2 separate regions of the Homo sapiens genome follow, and region 1 is linked to region 2. Evidence: fine-mapped expression QTL. A gene starts in region 2. The other region holds a variant in brackets. All regions are shown on one strand. Distances are between the middles of the regions.

Region 1 (11,189 bases), 31 kb before region 2:
TAGTAATCAAAACAGCATGATACTGGCATAAAAACAGATATGTTGACTAGTGGAACAGGAGAGCCCAGAAATAAACCAACACACCTATAGTCAATTGGCTTTCAATAAATATGCCAACACTACACAATGAAGCCAGTCTCTTCAATAAATGGTGTTGGTAAAACTGAATATACACATGCAGAAGAATGAAACTGGATCCTTATCTCACACCACATATAAAAATCAACTCAAAATGGTTTAAAGACTTAAACATAAGACCTGAAACTATAAAACTACATGAACAAAACACAGGGGAAATGCTCCATAACACTGGTATGGGCAAAGATTTCTTGGATATAACCCCAAGAACACAGACAACAAAAAATACATGGCGCTGCATCAAACTAAAAAGCTTCTGCATAGTGAAGTGAATGATAGAATGAAGAGACAACCCATGAATTCGAAGAAAATATTTATAAATCATACATCTGATAAGGGGCTAATATCCAAAATACATAAGGTACTGAAGCCACTAATAAGAAAATGAACTCAATTAAAACATGGGCAAAGGATGTAAACAGATATTCCTAAAAAAGACACAAATGGCCAACAAATATATGAAAAGATGCTCATCATCACTAATCAGAAAAATGCAAATTAACACAAGGTATCACCTTACACCTGTTAGAATTACTATTATCAAAATGATAAAAGTGTTGACAGGGTGTAGAAAAAAGGGAACACTTGTGCACTGACGTTGGGAATGTAAATTAAAACAGCCAATATTAAAATCAGCATGGAGACAGAAAACTAAAAATAGAATTACCATATGATCCAGCAATCCCACTTCTGGACATATAGCTAAAGGAACTGAAGTCAGTGTGTCAAAGAGGTATCTGTACCACCACGTTCACTGCAGCATTATTCACAACAGCTAAGATATGGAAGCAATCTTAATGTCCATCATCATATGAATGAAAACAAAATGTGGCATATATACTCAATGGAATACTATTCAGCCCTATAAAAGAAAGAAATCCTGTCACTTGTGACAGGAACCTGGAAGACATTATACTAAATGAAATAACCCAGGCACAAAAAGGTAAATACTATGTGATCTCAGCTATCTGTGCAATCTAAAAAAAAGGTGAATTCATAGAAGTAGAATGGTGGTTACCAGAGGCTGGGAGAGAGAAGTGGATGGGAAAAGGGGAGATGCTGATCAAAGGGTACAAAATATCAGTTAGACAAGAGGAATAAACTTTACTGATCTATTACACAGAATGGTGAGTATAATAAATAATGCATTGTACATTTCAAAAATATTAAGAGTAGATTTTAAGTGGTTTTTTTACCACAAAAAATGGTATGAGGCAATAAATTTATTACATTGATTTAATCATTCTACACTGTAAACATATATCAAAACATCACATTGTACTCCATATATATAATATACACAATTATCAATTAAATTTTAATAACACAAAGGACAAAAGAAAAAGTGGCATAGTTTTGAACAACTCCCATTTAAAATTAATTCATTTCAAATTAAACTATTCAACTAGTGAATACCTATTGCCAGGCACTTATAAAATAATGTTGGCTCTTTAGTACTTAGTAAATTTATTTTGATGCATGACCAAAATAAAAGGGAAATTTAACATGTATATCATATGAAAATAGGTTTTAGTGAAGAAATAAAAACTGAGTTTGATTTTAAAATCCATGACACTATAAACAAACTACTACTTCCAACATAAGCTAAAGTTAATTCATAAAGAGTTCTATGTACTGGTTAAGAAGACCCCAGAAACTAAGAAATGAACAACTTGATATACACTCATTTTTTTTTTATACATACATCTTTAATGATAAAAGAAGCTGAGATGCTATGCACCAAAAAATTCGTAAGGGTATTGTTATTTTACTTTTTTCAAAAATAATCCAAATAAACTATAGATACAAATTCTGCGGCAGGGCAACCTAACTTATTTCAGGGACAGATAATTCTAGTGTACTTAAGATCTGTCTAAGTATTTAACATTCCTGTAAGCATTATAAAAAAGAATAGGAAAAGAATGAAGTTGTCTGTTAAAATGTTAACAGTAGTTCTCTCTGAAAGAAGGGATTGTTGAGAGTTTTTTACCTTCTTTCTTATAGAGGTATAACCTATACTTATGAAGTCAGAGAAAGAAAAAATATTTAAGGGTAAAGTTATGTATTTTAAGTTTTGCATACTGAATGGTAAGGGATGTAGATTTTATTCTTATTGTGAATGAGAAGTGTTGAAGGATTTTAATCATCGAGTTGACGTGTCATGAACAAATACTTGAAGCAACCCTGGGTACCGAAGCCTAGAGACTTTGAGTACATTTGAAAATTGCTTTAAGTGCATGACTAGACAGCATAAACGAGTGATTGCATATGTACTCTGCATTATTTTGGACATGTTTGGATCCTAAGTTAAAGAAACAATCAGATTGTGAAATAAGACTTTCTAACTAGAGTCACCTAAAAAAATGAAAGGTTAATCTATCAAATCATGAGCGCTTCAATGATATGGATGACTAGCTGTGAGGGGTATTTTAGCAAAATAGAAGTTTAGATCAAAAGCAATGTGGTAAAAGTGGGTTTGGAGTCAAACTTGGATCTGATTCCCAACTCCAACATATAGTGTCTGTTATTTACCCCCAATGTGTCATTTTAACCTCTAAACCTCAGCTTTCTTGTCTATGAGGACAACACTTACCCCACAGAATCATTGTAGTAATTAATGCTAATGCATGACCCAGCACAGATGTTGAAAACAGAAGAGCCTTATTATTATATACTCACTCCTATTTAAAGATCCAATGATTCAATGATTAAAAACAATAACATGATTGGTTTGGCAGAATAATACCAAACATAAAAAGTAATACATCTGGACCAAGCACAGTGGCTCATGCCTGTAATCCTAGCCCTTGGAAGGCCGAGGTAGGAGAAATGCTTGAGCCCAGGAGTTCAAGACCAGCCTGGACTTTGTTTCTACAAAACAATTAAAAATTAGCTGGGCATGGTGGCACACACCTGTAGTCCCAGCTACTCAGGAGGCTGAGGTGGAAGGATCAGTTCAGCCCAGGAAGTCAAGGCTGCAGTGAGCTACGATCACTTCACTACACTCTAGCCTAAATGACAGAGCAAAACCACTTCAAAAAAAAGTATTAGATCTGGAAAACTAGTCTTTACTTATCTGTATACTAATTGGTAATACCCAGGAACATCCTTTCCCAAATGAAGATCAGCACTGCTGCTCTGGCCAGGCCAAGGAAACAGATGAAGGGAAAGAACATAAGAAGAGTGGAATACAGAAGACAAGAAGGTGGGATAAAATAAAGATCTGAGTCCCAAACTGCTGCCTTTATCTAGGTGAATAAATTTCAACAAAAGAAGAAATAAATGTGCCAGAACTCTTAGGCTTTCTAGTTAAAAGGCTAACTTCCTTATTCAAAGAAGATTCAAATAGCTCAAAGTTGGAAATACAACTGGTGCTCAATAGGTACTTATCAACTGATAAATGTACATTTTACATCCTAGCCTAATGGTAAAGCTATTACGGAGATAACAGTGTCAAAGTCGGCTGGATCATCAAACATATTTGTTAACTTTGTTCCTGAAGTAAGAGGTATATTTAATTCCACTACATGAGCCCAAAAAAGTATTATGAAATCAGAGATCTTGCCAGGAATATCCCATGCCCTTCCCACTCATCCATCCCCTATTTTCACACGCTTAGGGAAGAAATATTCTATTCATTTACAATAAGACATCCACTCCTTGCATAAAGAAAAATGAGTACATTGATCAAATATGATGAACAATAGAATGTACTGCTGTGAGGACAAGGACTTTTATCTTTATTGTTCACTGTTGTCTCTACAGCATCTAGAAACATATCTGCCACATAGCAGTTGCTCAATAAATACTTGCTAAATGAAGGAATGAATGACTCTTTGAAGAAATAATTTTGGGCAACCTAAAAAAAACTGTTTTCAATGTTGATGTTTTTATTAAGGCTTTGGAAGAGTCTTATTATTTTACATAATAATTTTCCCAACTACTTTTATGGAATACCTCAAAAGAAAGAAAATTTCTTTTACATTATAGAACTGATGATACTGCCCTAATTGAGCCAAACATAGAAAACTTTGGAAAAAACTTTCTATAAAACAGTTTCAATATAATTTTATTAGCAGTTATTACATCAAAATTCACATTTAGAGGATCCAGAGGACTGTCTTAGAAAATTCTAAAGCATATTTAATTAGGTTTTAACAGTAAGGGAGAACTTAATATAACACAGCCCTTAAAAAGTCAAGACTACTACTGAAAATTAAGTGCAGTTCTATCAAGAACTAGAAATGAACTGCACGCGTAGTGTCACTTAAAGCAAAGCTTCATGAAAATATAATACACTTCTATGAATGTATCAGTGGCAAACATCATTGGCTTCCAAAAAACTGACACTAAAGGAATTTCCAATCAAAACACAAGCACAGTGGCTTTCATTCAATATAGAGCTATGATAAGTCTATCAAGAGACCCTGAATCCTTACGTACTTGTAATATGATTTTATGCTGTGACACTAGTACAAAACACATCAACTCTAATGCATAGATGACGACACATGATAACACGATACCAAGGAAAGCCTTTTTCTATATCAGAAAATGCCAAGTTCTCCAGTACTGTGTAGGCTCGTCATTGCTGATCCAGTGAAATTCTACGTCCTCCAGCTTGAGCAGTATTATAGGATTCACAAATCTTACATTTCATGCCTAATATATGAAACTGAACAGTGGATCGTCCATTACAGTCATTGCAGAGAATCTGAAAAGAGATTAATTCAAATTAAGTATTTTAAACCTTATAAATACAAGTAGCATTGTCTACTCATAATCCCTTGAAAATCATATTAAAGATGTGAAAATACATACATAAGTCTAAAAATTTCCAAAAGTAGAAATTTCTTCTTATTTTTTCACTGAAAACTCTAAAAAGCTATTAAGGTGGCTCTGAATTCAGAAAATGAAAAGGCAGATTTGAG[C/CA]AAAAAAAAAGCTTATTTTAAAATAGTTTCCAAATATTAAATAGTATAAATAGTACAAGCAAGAAAATTAACCTAGGCATAATCAGATGAATACCTGATACTTATAATTCAAAATAACAACATGATTTCATTATTTTTCAGTCAGAAATGTATCTCAATTAATAAAACCAAAATTTTTACACAAATAATATTTTTGCTTATTTTTTAGGTTTAGTATACTGTTCCCTGTCTTCTCTGCCTTAGGAATGAATTAAATTCCAAAAAGAGTGTTCCTAAAATTGAGTAAACAGAGAGGCTCTTCGCTCATCCCTACAATAACAATAAGATGCCGTTTAAGAATTAATTTCTTCTAGTGCTAAGTAAGAACCTGAAAAATAACAAAGGTGTTAACCTGAAAATCAATACATTACTATGCAAGAAAAGCACTAGTTTTTGAATAGTCACACTATAATAAGCAGAAAATTTCCAAATTTGCTCTAAATTATAATTTGGAAAATAATTATTTAAAAAATATGATCTAAATGGAGAAAGTGGATTAGTGGTTGCCTAGGCCTGGGGCGTTAGGGAATGACTGCTAATGGGTATGAGTGTTTCCTTTTTGGGATGATAAAAATGTTCTAAAATTGTGGTGATGTTTGCATAACTACATGAATATTTTAAAAAGCACCAAATTGTACAATTTAAATGAATGAACTATATAATATGTGAATTGTATCTTAATGAAGCCATTATTTCCAAAAATTATCTACATGGAACATAGCACACTTCGGCCTCTAGTCAATCACATGATTATCGGTTAGTATTCCAAAAGTGATTTTTCATTGCCCTAACAATTATCCACATGAATTATGAAACACTCCAGTGTAAATAAAACAAAAAATAATTTTCATTTGGCTTTGCTACGTGGTTTTTATCCTCGTATGCTGAAGTATCTGAAGATGTTCAGAAAATGTGTAATATAACCAAAAATTATCTAGCCAGAATACTAGGCTTTCCCATTCTAATCTAAAACTCAATACCATGTATGGCTGAGAAGAGACAGCAACACATCTTAATTAAACGAAAAAAGATGATCACTCTCCATAAGCCAAAAGGCACAGAAACAACCTTTTATGCTTTAGGTTGCAAGCTAATTGCAACCAAATAAAGAAAGTCAAGACCCTCTGAATCTATTCTGGTTCAGGGCTGCCTGATTCACAAACTGTTTCTCAATTAAGTTCTGTTAAATTTAATTTGTGTAAGGTTTTGCTTCAAACAGCTGGCATCAGAAGTGGGATTTGAAGTACAGCTTTCAGTGACCGCCAGGAGCACCAAGGGGACCCAGTAAGGTACCGTTAGGCCCTTTGTGTCCACTGCTCTCTTGCAGCCATTAGGAATCATGGTAAGTTCTCAGATTCTAAAGCTCTGCGCATTTGTGTTTTGAGCTATCCAAGTTTTTTTGAACACATTTTCTATCTGAACTGAATTCAGAAGTCGCAACAAAAACTGGACTGGGTCCAGGATCCAACTGCCTTGGATCTAGCTAAAGACCTCTTATGCCTGACTGGGTCGGGCAGAAGCACAGTAAATGGCAAAACAGCAGGGGGTGGGGGTGCAAATTTTGGCTTTTGGAAATTCACAGGGTTTTTTGTGTCCTGCCCTCTTCAATTCTTCTTCTTGCACATTTAAGTAGAGAAAAATCACTGGTTAAGTTTACCAAGGAAATATGAGAGCCAAAGCCAAGATTCAAGGTGAAAATGGGATCCTTAATTTCTGAAGAACTGAGCAATCTACCTTCTGGCTCTGCCTACATTTACAAGTGTAAGTATTAGGCCCCAGAAGCAGCACTTTTTAAACATTTTATAGAAGGATAAAATGCCATTTGCTTATAGAAATGGCAAAACCTTACTAAAAGTAATTTAAAATTATAATGGAACGTCCCAAATGAACACTTAAAACTACACTTTAAGAAGTGCATTTGATGATGGCCATAAGCTGTTAAAAACCAAACCAAAAAAAAAAGTGCATTTGAAAATGAGGGCTCCCAAATTAGACTCATCTAAGAATGCCTATTGAGTGAAGCTTCTAAAAATATTTCAATATTTTTATTGCCTTAAAAAAAAGATGTTTTAAAAGGCAAATAAAAAGCTTAACTAACTGATAAGACAAATTAAATCTACTAGCCTTTTGGCTTAGTTACTATACTGCCCTGAAGGCTAAAAGAAAGCTAGCCTGGATTAAATGTTTATAAAATATAGGCCCTTAGGTAAAGCTGACTTGCCTCTTTTTCAGATCTATCCATACTGTGCCCAGGCATGGACATGGACACTAAGATACTTCTGTTTAATTTCTGAGTAAACTGCAAACAATAAAAAAGAACGCTGTCTTTCCCCTACTGTCTTAGTGGGCTCCACCCTGAACTCAGTAATTTTAGCTAAGAAACAGTAGTTAAATTTTTAAAAACGATCTATGGAACTAAAGTATACCTTTCTGGCATTCAACTGGCTATACTGAAGGCTATCCTGAAACCCTTTTGGTAAAATCAATTTATATCTATAAAGGAAATTTACATTTGTAAAGGTGTCTGTGTACATTAGGAACTCTTATCACTATTTTAAATTTATATAGTAAGTCATACCTTTGTTTAAGGTGACTGGCCATCTTGTCTTAACTTTTACTCACACCATTTTTTCCTTGGTTTGAGCAAATGATGGTACAATATTTACGTCTAAAGTCTTAGCTGTGTGCTTTTGAGATATACATTTTCTACCTTGTTTGACCTAAGAATTGGCCCTTTAGAAATGCATATTTAGGGCTGCCTAGCTAACAATTGCTTAGGGCAATGAAACAGGTTAATTGGTAAACTGATAGTCTGAATGGTGAATAGAAAAACTATTTAAAAGCCAGCAAATGAGAATCCTTTAGGAAAGCTCTAAGATCTGCTTCTGTCTGTGTCTGTATTCCTATAGGTGTTATGTGTATGTGATAACATTTGGTAAATAAAGCCAGTTTTTATATTGTTAGTAAATAGGAATGGCTTCAGAGGTGTCTGTTGAATATAATTCAACACTTGCTTGATTTGACTGTGAGCTTGTTTTGGGTTTTGAACCTCTAGATTCTCAAGTCTGGCTAGGTGAGACCTGGGTACATGTTCTCAGTGCCTAGACCTGTAGCTACAAAGCAGAATCAAGCCCACTAGAGCTTCTTCTTCCCTGTCTTAGCTTTGCCTCCTGGCTATTCTAGGAGGGGTTCCATCCTCCAAGCATCATCTTTACAGCTCTGTCTTCTGTTCAAAGCTCTGTAAGTGGTACGTAAATTCAGGACTCAGACAGGCTCTGCCCTTCATAGCCCTCCTGGTTGACATATGACTACTTGAGACTCAAGATGACTGAGAAAACATTCGGGAGGGTACATCTGTGTCCTAATTTCAAATTTTTTTTCAGTAATTTAAAATCTTATAGTCATATGTTTAAGTAAATAATCATAAAACTTTTAAGTCATTTATAAGTTAAAATGCTAAAACATTAATTATAAGTTTAAGTTTATATACTTTGGCATCTTATTTTTATATAGTATAGAAAAACTAAATATATTTAGATATCTTAATAAATAATAATTTAAGGAAACATCCTTCCAAAAAATTAAAATGGCTTCCATCTATAAATACTGATACAAAACAGTTCAAAATTACTTCCTAGGGTTTTCACTGGAAATTAGGATTACTAAGAGTTAAAACTGTAGTTAATATATGTAATTAAAACTACTAGATGTAAGAAAAACAATTCCCTATAAGGAGTGTAAAAACAAGCAAGATATACTTTTGGTAAGACAAGTTGCAAAGGCATGTATTTAAAAAAATTCAGCTTCAGGAGGCCAAGGAGGCCAAGGCGGGTAGATCACAAGGTCAGGAGTTTGAGACCAGCCTGGCCAATACAGTGAAACCCCGTCTCTACTAAAAGTACAAAAATTAGCCAGGCGTAGTGGTGTGCGCTTGTAGTCCCAGCTACTCGGGAGGCTGAGGCAGAAGAATTGCTTAAACCCTGGAGGCAGAGGTTGCAGTGAGCCAAGATTGCTCCACTGTACTCCAGCCTGGGTGACAGAGAAAGACTCCGTCTAAAAAAAAAATTTTGGTCTAGTTTGAAGTTACTTAACGGTTGTTTCAAATTGAAGGAATAAAAAAGTGTAGATTAAAATACAGAACGTTCAAAAGAAAGAATTTTAAAAGTTTATAAGGGAATATAAAAGATTTATGGAAATCTTACGTGGTAAAAAACTGACAGATTGGATGGATTTGTTTACAAGGTTTTATTAAAATTCGCTTTAGTCCTAACAATACAAAAGTAAAATCTGGTTTTCTCTCTTGAACAAAGATTTCATGTAGTATTAATAAGACAGTTAAATATTTTTGTTTACTTTTGGGTAAATTTCAAACAATAAAAAGAGGAGACAAGGGGAAACAGATTTTGTCTCACGCTGTCTCAGGACTTTTAATTGTTTAGAAAACTGAGTTTCGAAGAGTAAAGGTTTTTGCTTTTTAAAACCTGTTAATTCTCATATTGGCTATATAAATGACTATATATAAATATATATATAGTCATATATATATTCACAATATATATAGTCATATATATTCATAATATATATATTCATAATATATATATTCATAATATATTCATAATATATATATTCATAATATATTCATAATATATATATTCATATATATATTCATAATATATATTCATATATATTCATAATATATATATTCATAATATATATATTCATATATATTCATAATATATATATTCATATATATTCATAATATATATATTCATATATATATTCATAATATATATTCATATATATATTCATAATATATATTCATATATATATTCATAATATATATATTCATATATATATTCATAATATATATATTCATATATATATTCATAATATATATTCATAATATATATATTCATAATATATATTCATAATATATATATTCATAATATATATTCATAATATATATATTCATATATATATTCATATATATAAATGTGATCCTATTTTGGTCAAGTATTTTAAATCTTCGACACACTTGACAAGCTTCCCAAAATCAAATTTCAACTTCAAAATTAAGTCTTTTTTTTTTACCTCTAACTTTGGCATGCTACAAAGGGCCCCTGCGGTATTCAAAAGAGAAAAAAATGATTATTTGATCTGTTAAATTACATAGGAAGCACTGTCAAATAAGAAATGATATTTAACCTTTGTGTTATATTTTTATTAAGATTTATTCCAAAATTATATGAGATTCTAAAATTCTTTATGTCGGGGTATATGCTATCAGTCTTAATTATGGTTACTGTGTTATTGCAGGCCACAGAAATAACCAAATTTCCTTGTCAATCATGTCTTTAACTATAACCATTTTAAGTTGTTTCCACAGTTAACTGCTTAATTCTGATGCAGTTTCTCTGAAAACTAGACAAGCAAGCAAAATCCTACAGTACTGTGTCTTCAAGGAGGTTCATGAAAGGATGAAAAGGACCCTGACAAACTCTCTTAAATATAGACTTCTGACAACTTTAGGACTTGGACTGGATAACAATTCCTAGAACTCTAATGGAGAGACTGACTGGTTTATAAAACTGCCAACCCAAGCAGGATAAAAATTGATTGAATACCAAGAAAATACTTTGCCAGATTTTCACACTAAAGCAGCCAGTACTGAAATTGTTTAGATTTCAATCAATTCCACAATCCAAGTCAAATTACCTATAATAACCCTTCAGTTATCAGTGGTAGGCACCTAACCTGGTATTTAAGAGGACACAAATCCAATGTTAAGCATGGACTCATGGAGAACCTGGACAGCCACCTGGCCCTTCCTAAATCCTTAAAGCTTCCATTATTAAAAGTTCTGCATTCCAGCCAGGCAAGGTGGCTCATCACTCCTATAATCCCAGCACTTTGGGAGACCGAGGCGGGTGGATCACGAGGTCAGGAGTTCAAGACCAGCCTGGCCAACATGGCGAAACACCGACTCTACTAAAAATACAAAAATTAGCCAGGTGTGGTGGCGGGCACCTGTAATCCCAGCTACTTGGGAGGCTGAGGCAGGAGAATCGCTTGAACCCTGGA
Region 2 (11,189 bases):
AACTGCAATAAACTAAACATTTTGAGTTACCATTTGAATATCTAGAACTTATGTTCAACTATATGCAGTTTATTTTTATAAGTTTTGAAACACCTAAACCAAAGATATTGCTTATTCTAGAAGTTAAAGAAATCTTATTTATGATACTTTTGATTAAATTTTTTCAAACCACCTTAATACAGCTTTTAAAAAGAAAATAGAAATGTCATAAAATCTTACATGTTGAATTTTTTCACAGTTTATGCACTGCACTTCCTTCACTTTAAAGCGATCTAGTTGATGATCTTCATTGTTATCATGACACAAGCGGCAAGTATAAAGCTTGTCACAGCAAGGTGCCTAACACCCACGGAGAAAAAAGAGATATAGTAAGAAGCAAAAGAAACTAAGTGTGCAATACAAAAAGAAAATTTCTTCCTCCTCCTCCTGGATGGAACTGAAAGATTACAACCAATAGATCAGTTGCTAAACTGATCCTAAACATAACATTTCACTAGTTTCTTGGCATATTTTATGTTAATTCTTCCCTTCAACATCACTACGTCTGTATGAAGTTGAACACAACTTTAAAACAAAAGAATTATGAAGGAAATCCCTAGATTGAAACACTAATCCCACAACACCTGATATGCTTTGGCTGTGTTCCCACCCAAATCTCAACTTGAAATGTATCTCCCAGAATTCCCACGTGTTGTGGGAGGGACTTAGAAGGAGGTAACTGAATCATGGGGGCCAGACTCTCCCGTGCCATTCTCGTGATAATGAATAAAATCTCATGAGATCTGATGGGTTTATCAGGAGTTTCCACTTTTGCTTCTTCCTCATTTTCTATTGCCACCACCATGTAAGAAGTGCCTTTTGTCTCCCGCCATGATTCTCAGGCCTCCCTAGCCATGTGGAACTGTAAGTCCAATTAAACCTCTTTTTCTTCCCAGTCTTGGGTATGTCTTTATCAGCAGTGTGAAAACAGACTAATATAACACCCCAATTTCATTCTGAGCCTAAACAGCAAACAGGCAACCTCTTCTTAGACATTTCCAGATAAATTCATTTACATTAAAAATAATAAAGATTATATTCTTATTTTACTAGCTTTTATTAATCATCAACCTCATATCTAATATTGCACAAAATGCAACAAATGTAAGAGACAGCCCTTGTTTTCAAACACGGCAAAGACTGCCAGTTGTCCACCAAAATCTATCCTCTCCTTCCTGGGCACAATTGTTCAGCTATATCAGACAGATGGCCACATGCCCTAAAACATGACAAAATGATACAACAGAAAAATCTCATCCCTGGAGTGACCATGTGGAGCAAAGCCTCATCACCAACCTGCATCACTCGCCTTGGAATTGTTAAATGGAAAGAAATAAAACCTTTACTCTTTAATCTACATCACTGTTGGGTTTTTTCATTACAGCAACTTTACCATTACAAGTATATCAAGAGATTTCCAGGCCAGTGACTTTCCAATACACTGTGACCTTGCAGATCCACTCATTTCTGAAGGCTTCCTATGCCTTGACTTACCATAACGTAGTTCATTCCTTAAAGATTTTAACACTTAACTGGCTTCCTTTTTCTGCAACTCTCAGTTCCTTAACTTTGTCATTTCCAATAACCTTGTCCTCCAACCCACTATTCTCATAGTTATACCGCAGAACAGTAGTTCTCAAATGGTTTGGTCTCAGGATCCCTTCACACTTTTTAAAATTACTGAGAATCCCAAAGAGCTTTGGTTTATGTGGATTTTATCTATTGACATATACCACATCATAAATTAAAAAGAATAGGTTTTTAAAATATTACTTCTTTTTAAAAGTAACAAACTCATTACTTGTTAACATAAATAACATGTTTTAATGAAAAATAACTATATTTTTCCCCCCAAACAGCTGAATTCTTCTATCTGCTTATGCATTCAAACAGTTGTGGCTGAAGTACAAAAAGAAACTCTGGCCTCACACAAATATGTACACTGGAAAAGAAAGGAGTATTTTAATAGCCTTTTTGGAGAATTATGGATATCATTCTCTGATATTACACTAGAACAACAACTCTTAAAGGGTAGTTGCAACATGAAATCTGAAATCGTATCAAGGAATATGATTGATATGATGCCTCTTTTCTTCCTTGGTTACATTAAAATCTATTGCTCTATCTTGCACTTCAAATGGATGTTTTACTCATGCATTGGTCATCTGGAGAATACCAGTTCAGTGAGTTATTTACATCTTCTAAATGTTCACACATTTAACATGCAATATCAAAAAATCATATTCATTAAAAGTCTTTAGGTATTGAAGAAAATCTCACCAAAAAAAGTCTTTTAAAAAGCTTCCAACCTCACAAAAGCTAGTAAAAGTTTTCCAAAATTCTAATTTTTGTGTGAAAGCTTGAATTTTATCACTGGCAACAAATACTGTCATTTTCATTTGTAGTGAGTCTCACTTTTCTCCTTTTTGAGAAAATGTCTGCCAACTACCCAAATGTGAATGACTACAATTTTTTCAAGTAAAAAATGCTGTTCCATGAAAAAAAGCAACTAGTTCACTTTACAATCCAATTTGCACAAGAGCTTTTCCTCAAGACAACCCTCTAATTTCAGTTTGCAGAAGTGTTTGATCAAAACTTCCCATGTCATTGAACAGCATATTAAAAGATATATTCAAGGGTTGAGATTTGGTTAAAATTAACGATTTTACTGCTTTATCAACATTTTTAAGTGAAGCTGGCTTTTTAAAAAAACTATAGGTGTAGTATAGTTCAGTGCCACTGTCTTGATTCAAGCTAAGATACTAGCAATACTAAACAGTGCTTTTCCACCATCAATGCGTGTGTCAACAGACTGAAAAAAAAAAAAAACAAATATCTTAGTGTTCATAGAAAGTAGTTTTGGCCTTGCAGAGCCCCTGAAAGGACTTCAGGAATCCCCAGGGTTCCATTCACCACACTTTGAAAACCAATGCTACAGAACAACGGCACCCTCTTTGCATCTCAATTCCAAGCATGAAATTCTCTAACCATTACCTCCTCCCTAACTTACTCCAAGTCTCCCCTTGCAACACCCTAGTTCCCTTCTCAGTTCCTCTACACTCATAGATAACAATCCCAACCCTAGTTAAATCCTATTTGACTTCTATCAGAAGCAGGTGAATATGGCTAGAGAAAAAGCATCACCGTCCTTGCTGGTTCATATGAGGTGGACACTTACTACCACGTTTCCCTGGTCAATTCTCTCATTCTTCCAGAGTCTAAGACCTAAGATTTAGATGATCATTTCACTTCTTCTCCTCTGGCTTTAAAACTCTAACAACTCTTCCTCCTTAACACTCTGCTGATGACCTTATTTCACTATAAAAACAGTAAACATACTTCCTGCTGACAGGCCTGAAAAGAACATCCTCCTATTATCTCTATTAACTTACTTGCAAATATACCTCATTCTCTGCCTTCCCTTAGGAAGAACTGACAGTCTATGTTTCTAAGGCCAACTCCTTCACTTGTGCACTGGATTTCATCCCCTTTGGCTACTCAGGGACAATGCCCTTACAGTTTTCTCACTCTCTCCTGCATTATAAAACGTTCTCACTCTATTGTATCATTTCCTAGAATATACAAACATGCTGTAATACTTCCTCTCTTAAAGAGGAAAAAATATGGTGCCAGATCTCCCAGCAACCACATCTTTTTTTTGCTCCCCTTTACAGCTAAACCCCAAGAATACCCTATAAGTGCTATTTTCAATTCCACTCCTCCCATTCTTTCCTAAATTCACTCTAATCCTGATCTCTCCACTAAAACTCCTCTTGTCAAGATCACCAGTGACCTCTTCCTTGCCAAATCCAAAGGGCAATTCTCAGTTATCTTACTCAAACAGCTGCATTTGACCCAGCTGACCACATCCTCCTTGAAATACTTCACTTGGCCTCTGGTATTTAAGGGGGGGGGGGGGGCGGGGGAAGGCAAAAACTGTTTGACACCTAGGGCGAAGTATCTTAGTGCTATGATACACAGATCTAATTGTGTGGTTTATGGGGGGCACCAAGATGTTAAATTCCGTTTTAGACCTCAAGTTTGAAAGAATAATAATACATCTCAGTAGAAATTGAATCATAAGGATAGCATTCAATTTCCTTACACAACACTTGGTGGATGACCAACATTTTTAAGGAGCTTCATCCAGTTCAGTGGAGCAATGTTCGTCAAGCCATGACCTATAGAAAAGAGTTTAGGATGCACGTACAGGCCTGAGACTTGAACTTGCTTCTAATAATGAGGCAGTGACCAGCAAGGCTGACTTGTGAAGTGAAAGAACAAAAAATAATAATACTCAGATTGACGATGATAGTAACAGTCATGGTGGTATATATTTACTACTCATTTACTTCAGGGAATGCGCCCTGTTAAACACTATACACGCCCTTTAGTATATAATCCTCATACACTTTTATGAAACAGGCGCGATCATCTCCATTTTACATACGGGGTAGAGAGGAGCTAGCTAAAATCAGTTATTAAAGAGGAGAGCTAAGATTTGGGGATAGGGCGGTTGAGGTTCCAAAGCTCAAGTTTTCTAAGCAAAATTTTTGTACTGTTTCTTGCAAGGAAAATCAGGAAACTTCAATTGAATACGTGCCAATTTAAAAAAAAATACAGATTAAGAAGTTTTCTCAGAGTAACAATACATGCTTATTAGGCACTTTCCTATGCATAATTTCCTATTTAATGGCAATTACATGATTGTCTTCTTTTTTGGGACACACGTTTTCTCCTACGTCTGAACATGTGCACTGCCTTTAACATGAAGCTGGCAGGCTATAAAACTTTACCACAGGAGCTGAAATCGTATTCGGGTTCTCCACTTGCTTATTTCCATTATCTCCACTTCCATTATTTCATCACACACCTGAACGGAAAACCCCAGTACAGGCCCGGGGCTGCCTCAGTCTACTTCGGCAGCAAAAGACGAATAAGCCCACTGGCAGAGACCACTGTGCAAGCCTAATCACTTCCCAAGAAGGGTTTTGCTTTAAAGGTACGAAGCAGGTAGGAAAGGTGGGGCTTATCGCCTTGCCAAAAACGTTCTCCTCAAGAAGAACCCAGTTCCAGGTGGAAAAGGTATCCTGAAAATCAGGTTAACCTCAAACTTAAATCCAAGCCTAACCACCTGCCCAGCCCGCCCCAGCCCAACCTGACGGAAGCTTGTCAGGGAAGAGTCCATAGAAGGCGTCACCTTTAGGAGACATCCTCTGTCATAGTGCTCGCAGCCCCGCTGACCTCGCTCTTGACCGCTGGCGCCATCTTCCCGGGCCGTCGCCGCCATCTCCTCCACCTCCCCTCACATTCCACCGATCCTTCCCCCAGGATAAAAACCACGCCCAGAGAAGCTGCGCCTCTCTAGCACACCCCTCCCAGCCCCAGCGGCCACTAGCGACAATATGGCTCCTAAGCACGTGACCCGGGGCAGACGGATTTCCGGTTCCCGGGGCTACGAGGCGGAAGCGAAGGCAGACGCAGTCTCCGTCGTTGACGTTAGTCGCAGTCTTCGCTGCTAACGGTAATAACTCTTAGGTTGCCTGTTTTCCCCCAATCGCTACCCGCCCAAATCTCAGGGCGTAGTTCGGCGCGAGGTTGGCGGCAGCGGCGCGGAGACGCTGGTTGGCCCCAGAGGAAAGGACGCTCACTGGGCGCATCGTTACCTGTGACGGGTCCTCCCTCTCTCCCTCCGGTGGCGGGGAGCCTGGAGAAAGGGGCGGAGCTCGGCCCGGGCCCTGGGCTCAGCGGGTCCCGCGCGCTGCTCTTGGACGCCAGGGTGCTCGCTGGCACCTCGAAGTGCTTCTTGCTTCCTCCCTTTCCCGTTTACTTGCTGTTCTTTCAAAATATGTACTGACATTCACTATTGCCAGTCACCAGCTAAACCGTGAGGACAAAAAGTAAGGAAAAATAGACACACTCCACCATGACCTCATGGAACTAACAAGACTGGTGGAGGAGGAAGACATTAATAAGAGCAATCACTGCAATAAATGTAAGATTACAACCTGGAGAAGTGCTAGGAAGAAGTGTGTGTCCTGTGAGAGCTAATATTAGAGCAGCTCTGACAATCTGAGTGTCAGTGAGGGAAGGCTTCCCTGGGGAAGCGATGCAAGCCGAGGGCTGAAAGATGGGTAGGAGTTAGTGTGCAAAAGGCTTTGTGGCACAAAGAACATGGTACCTGTTAGAAGGTGGAAGGAAAATGTACAAGCCAACAAAATTGAAATCATACTCGGGGTACACAGCTAAATATGTTTCTCCTTATTAAAGAGTCAAGGCCCTGGAAAATGATGTAAGCAAAGCTGCAGGTGTTAGAAGAAGATATTTGTCTTTAGCTTTCTATCCTGATTTTGTGTTTCCTAAAACACCGGGAAAGGGAAAATATTCCCCTTCAGCTTTCCGGTTACTAACTCTTAACATTCTAATTTTCTTTCAGTTTTGTTATGAGTTGCTAAAATGGTGAAATGCTGCTCCGCCATTGGATGTGCTTCTCGCTGCTTGCCAAATTCGAAGTTAAAAGGACTGACATTTCACGTGTAAGATTTTGCTGTAGTTAAGCCAAATACTTTGGCCATGTTATAAAAAGCAAAAGACAGTTCTACTTAAGTCTTCAATTTTGAACTTTAGTTCCCGAGTCCTTTTTAAATAACCTTTTTGTTAAATTTGAAGTGACAATGTGATACCTTTACATGTTTATAATTTAGTTTAAAAGTTTTAAGATATCAGAGACTTTAAGATATCAGAGACTGGTTTACAAAAAATACCATAAGGCTAACTTTTGCTAATATTATTACTTTGTATTTTATCACACCGCCAAAGAAATTCAATGTTGTTTACATGTAGTTTACAATCTGAATGAAGGAGCTTTGCTCGAATATATTGCCCTCTCTATTTAGAAGTAGATCAAGCATAGGTTATAGAGAAAAAATACAAATTACAAGTTAAGACCAAGGGATCTTTAGCTGTGTTGCAAATAAATCAAAATGATTTTAGTTTCATATTTTAGCCATTCTCTTGACAGCCATGAAGGAGTAAGTGAAGGAGTAATAAGATTTAATAGTTGTTCACTTGTTAAAGGTTTATTTTGCTGCTTTTGTGCCAGGCACTGTCCTATGTGTTAGAGAAAGATCTCCTAGCTATTTTGTTAGATATAATAAATCAAAACTGAGCATATATATCCTACCTTATTTTAGAAAAATTTGAACCAGCTTGAAAATTGAGTAAGATATGGCTATTAGGCCTTCATATCTCTCAAAATAGCTCTGATCTCCAGAACTCCACACTGCAGCTATTCTCTGCATTCATTCACTAAGCATCTGTAGACCTGCTATGTATTAAATGCTGTACTAAGCAATTTTCTGGTGCTGACAGAAGAATGGAATTACAAGGGGCCCTTTTTATCGAGGATAAATTCTGGATATCATTTCAGATAGGAAAAGGCCCAAGTGATAATTCTTTTATCATCTATAGATGAATAAATACCTTCAATTGTGGATCTTACTATAAGATGCTAAATATCCATTGAAACTTTTCTTCCTTATAATGTGAGAAAAAATGAAATGAGGGCCATATATCTGCAGCATGATTGGCAGAAAATCTGAATATTAAAACGGAAAGTAACAAAAGCATGAATTATGGTTTCCTAAATATTATAATTCTCAAGACTAATAAACTAGTTAACGAATCAATTTAGTCACAGTTGTATAAGGCAGCTTTAATTCAATTATATAGCAATAGTATTTGATTTTAAAATATTTTTTGTATTTTTTTTCTAGATTCCCCACAGATGAAAACATCAAAAGGAAATGGGTATTAGCAATGAAAAGACTTGATGTGAATGCAGCCGGCATTTGGGAGCCTAAAAAAGGAGATGTGTTGTGTTCGAGGCACTTTAAGAAGACAGATTTTGACAGAAGTGCTCCAAATATTAAACTGAAACCTGGAGTCATACCTTCTATCTTTGATTCTCCATATCACCTACAGGTTTGTTTATGAGATACTGTTTACCATCATTGCTCACTTTTTTTTTTTTTTTTTTTTGAGATAGAGTCTCGCTCTGTCACCAAGGCTGGAGTGCAGTGGCGCGATCTCAGCTCACTGCAATCTCTGCCTCCAGGGTTTAAGCAATTCTCTGCCTCAGCCTCCCGAGAAGCTGGGATTACAGGCACCTGCCACCACACCTGGCTAATTTTTGTATTTTTAGGAGAGATGGCGTTTCACCATCTTGGCCAGGCTGGTCTTGAACTCCTGACCTCGTGATCCACCCTCCTCGGCGTCCCAAAGTGCTGGGATTACAGGCATGAGCCACCGTGCCTGGCCATTGCTCACTTTTTATGATACTATTGAAGAACCTTCACCACTCTTGCTAACATTTTTATTGTTTGCTTATTCATTTGAAGTCTGTTCTTGAAGTTTTAAATTTGTAGACTGCATCTTCAACTTTTGTAATGTGTAGTAGGAGTATTTTACCAGTAACCACTCATAAATATTTGTATATTACTAAGGTTTGATGAAGTGGGCTGACTTTAGGAATTAGCATAACTGAAGATTTTTGTCTAAAAATGGAAGTTAACGTAAGAAGGTTGAACTGATGTTCCAAGTTGGCAGTCCTTAACACTGGGGCAGAAGTCAGGAGTAGAACCACTAACAGGACTAAAGTACTTGTAAGAGCCACATACATGCAAGCATAAAGTCTAGGTAGGATCAAAAGGAAGAAAACCAAAAAAGAGATCTAAGAACAGGAGAAGAAAAGGTCAGGAAAAGAAAGAACAGTCAAATAAGTAAACGCTAATTGAATTCCATGTTTTTTCTGGGTAATATTCCCATGGGTTGGCTGCCTCACCCTCAGTATCTCTCTTGACTTTGTATACCTGAAAGTGAATTTCTAGAACCTATAGACATTGATTGATTGATTCCAATGTGGAAAATTCAGGGAGAGCCTCCATTGAAAGGGATCTCCTTCCTGGCAACTAAAAACAAGAGAAGTAGCCAAAAGCGTACCCGCTCCCATGCAGTCCTGGTCACTTTCTGCAGTTGGTCATATTGTAGAACCTGAGTGATCAGGTAGAGAATGCCTCACTTTCTTCGGTGCTAATAAATATACAGTATCTTGGGAAAGTTGGTCTAGGGCTTTTGTTTTTTTTCCTACCACCAAGGTGTCATCTAGCCGTAATGTTAAGGGGACCTTAAGAAATATGGGCATAATAAATCAAATAAACCATAAGTTACCAACTTTCAAAAACTATTGATTTTCTTATAACAAATAAATTTTTCATTTTAGAAAATAAGATTATAGGAGCAAAAATAAAATAATCACATAATCCATAGATAATACTGTGAACACTTTGATCTGTATCTTTGTAATTATCCGTAAATATGCATCTATACTTATATAGATAATCTTCTGGAAATAGAATTATACTGTATACCTTTTCCTTTATTTGCTTTATTGGGTTTTTTAAAATAGTGTGTACTATGTGCCAGGCACTATTCCAAGTACTTTACATGTCTATTAACTCAGTCCTTGAAAGAACCATGTCAGGTAAATACTATTATTATTTTCATTTTATCACTTGAGAAAACTGAGGCCCAGAGAACTAGAATGCCCTTCCCAGGGTCACACCTCTATTAAATGGCAGAGGCTAGATTTGATCCCAGGCATTTTGACTTCAGAGTCTACTATTAACTACTACTCTCCATGACATTAAATATTTTCCTACACCGTAGCTTTCAAACTTTAGTCTACGTAAGGATTATCCAGTGAGTTTGTTTAAAATACAGAATCCTACATCTTCCAGAGAATTAGATTCAGTAAATTGGAGTGTACTTTCTAAAAAAGCATCCCAATCTGTTTGTGCTGCAGATCTATGGATCACATGTTTAAGAGAAACCTATGTAGAACATCACTTTTTTTTAACTAAACTTTATGTTGAAGTAAAATATATTTGTGGAAGAGTGCTTGTAAGTGTACAAATCAATGAGTTTTCACAAAGTGGGTACACTCATGTCACTCCCCTCAGACCAAGATATAAAACATTGCAAGTGACCCAGAAGCCTCCCTCACATGCTTTCCCAGTCACTACTGTCTTGACTTTATCACTGTCAATTATATACATGGAGTCCTGTCTACAGTATGTACTCTGGCTTCTTTAGCTCAACATCTTGTATGATTCATCCACATTGTAGCATGAGATACTGGTCCATTAATTTTCTTTGCTGTATGGTATTGCATTGTACAATTTCTTCATTCTACTATTGATAAATGTTTGGGTAGTTTTTCACACTGGGGTTATTATAAATTGTGCAGCTCTGAACATTTTGGGGCACATCTTTTTTTTTTTTTTAATTATGCTTTAAGTTTTAGGGTACATGTGCACATTGTGCAGGTTAGTTACATATGTATACATGTGCCATGCTGGTGCGCTGCACCCAGTAACTCATCATCTAGCATTAGGTATATCTCCCAATGCTATCCTTCCCCCCTCCCCCGACCCCACCACAGTCCCCAGAGTGTGATATTCCCCTTCCTGTGTCCATGTGATCTCATTGTTCATTTCCCACCTGTGAGTGAGAATACGCGGTGTTTGGTTTTTTGTTCTTGCGATAGTTTACTGAGAATGATGATTTCCAGTTTCATCCATGTCCCTACAAAGGACATGAACTCATCGTTTTTTATGGCTGCATAGTATTCCATGGTGTATATGTGCCACATTTTCTTAATCCAGTCTATCATTGTTGGACATTTGGCTTGGTTCCAAGTCTTTGCTATTGTGAATAATGCCGCAATAAACATACGTGTGCATGTGTCTTTATAGCAGCATGATTTATAGTCCTTTGGGTATATACCCAGTAATGGGATGGCTGGGTCAAATGGTATTTCTAGTTCTAGATCCCTGAGGAGTCGCCACACTGACTTCCACAATGGTTGAACTAGTTTACAGTCCCACCAACAGTGTCAAAGTGTTCCTATTTCTCCACATCCTCTCCAGCACCTGTTGTTTCCTGACTTTTTAATGATTGCCATTCTAACTGGTGTGAGATGGTATCTCATTGTGGTTTTGATTTGCATTTCTCTGATGGCCAGTGATGGTGAGCATTTTTTCATGTGTTTTTTGGCTGCGTAAATATCTTCTTTTGAGAAGTGTCTGTTC

Alleles and levels. Positions count from the first base shown, and alleles are read on the strand shown. Sizes are in standard deviations (SD) of each study's normalised expression.
For the expression in non-classical monocytes of the gene that starts at base 5,446 in region 2, allele C in region 1 goes with a lower level than allele CA (large effect, 1.4 SD a copy in Schmiedel 2018).

The links. PIP is the estimated chance that this variant, and not a neighbour inherited with it, causes the effect.
Region 1: its variant is fine-mapped to the expression of RCHY1 in non-classical monocytes (Schmiedel 2018, PIP 0.95).

The regions. Positions count from the first base shown.
Region 1 is chr4:75,477,815-75,489,003 of GRCh38, forward strand. It overlaps RCHY1 (ring finger and CHY zinc finger domain containing 1), which reads right to left. Exons shown (of 9, transcript NM_015436.4): 9 at 1,219-4,852. The coding sequence ends at 4,724. Among named protein-coding and RNA genes, the nearest start is that of RCHY1, 31 kb to the right of the region's middle. The variant C/CA (reference allele first, on the strand shown) is at 5,070.
Region 2 is chr4:75,508,958-75,520,146 of GRCh38, forward strand. RCHY1 (ring finger and CHY zinc finger domain containing 1) reads right to left here and starts at 5,446. Exons shown (of 9, transcript NM_015436.4): 1 at 5,240-5,446; 2 at 220-339. The coding sequence starts at 5,329. It overlaps THAP6 (THAP domain containing 6), which reads left to right and starts at 5,516. Exons shown (of 5, transcript NM_144721.6): 1 at 5,516-5,563; 2 at 6,476-6,575; 3 at 7,815-8,022. The coding sequence starts at 6,496. RefSeq lists enhancers at 4,555-5,485, 5,172-5,651, 5,486-6,416, 5,992-6,211.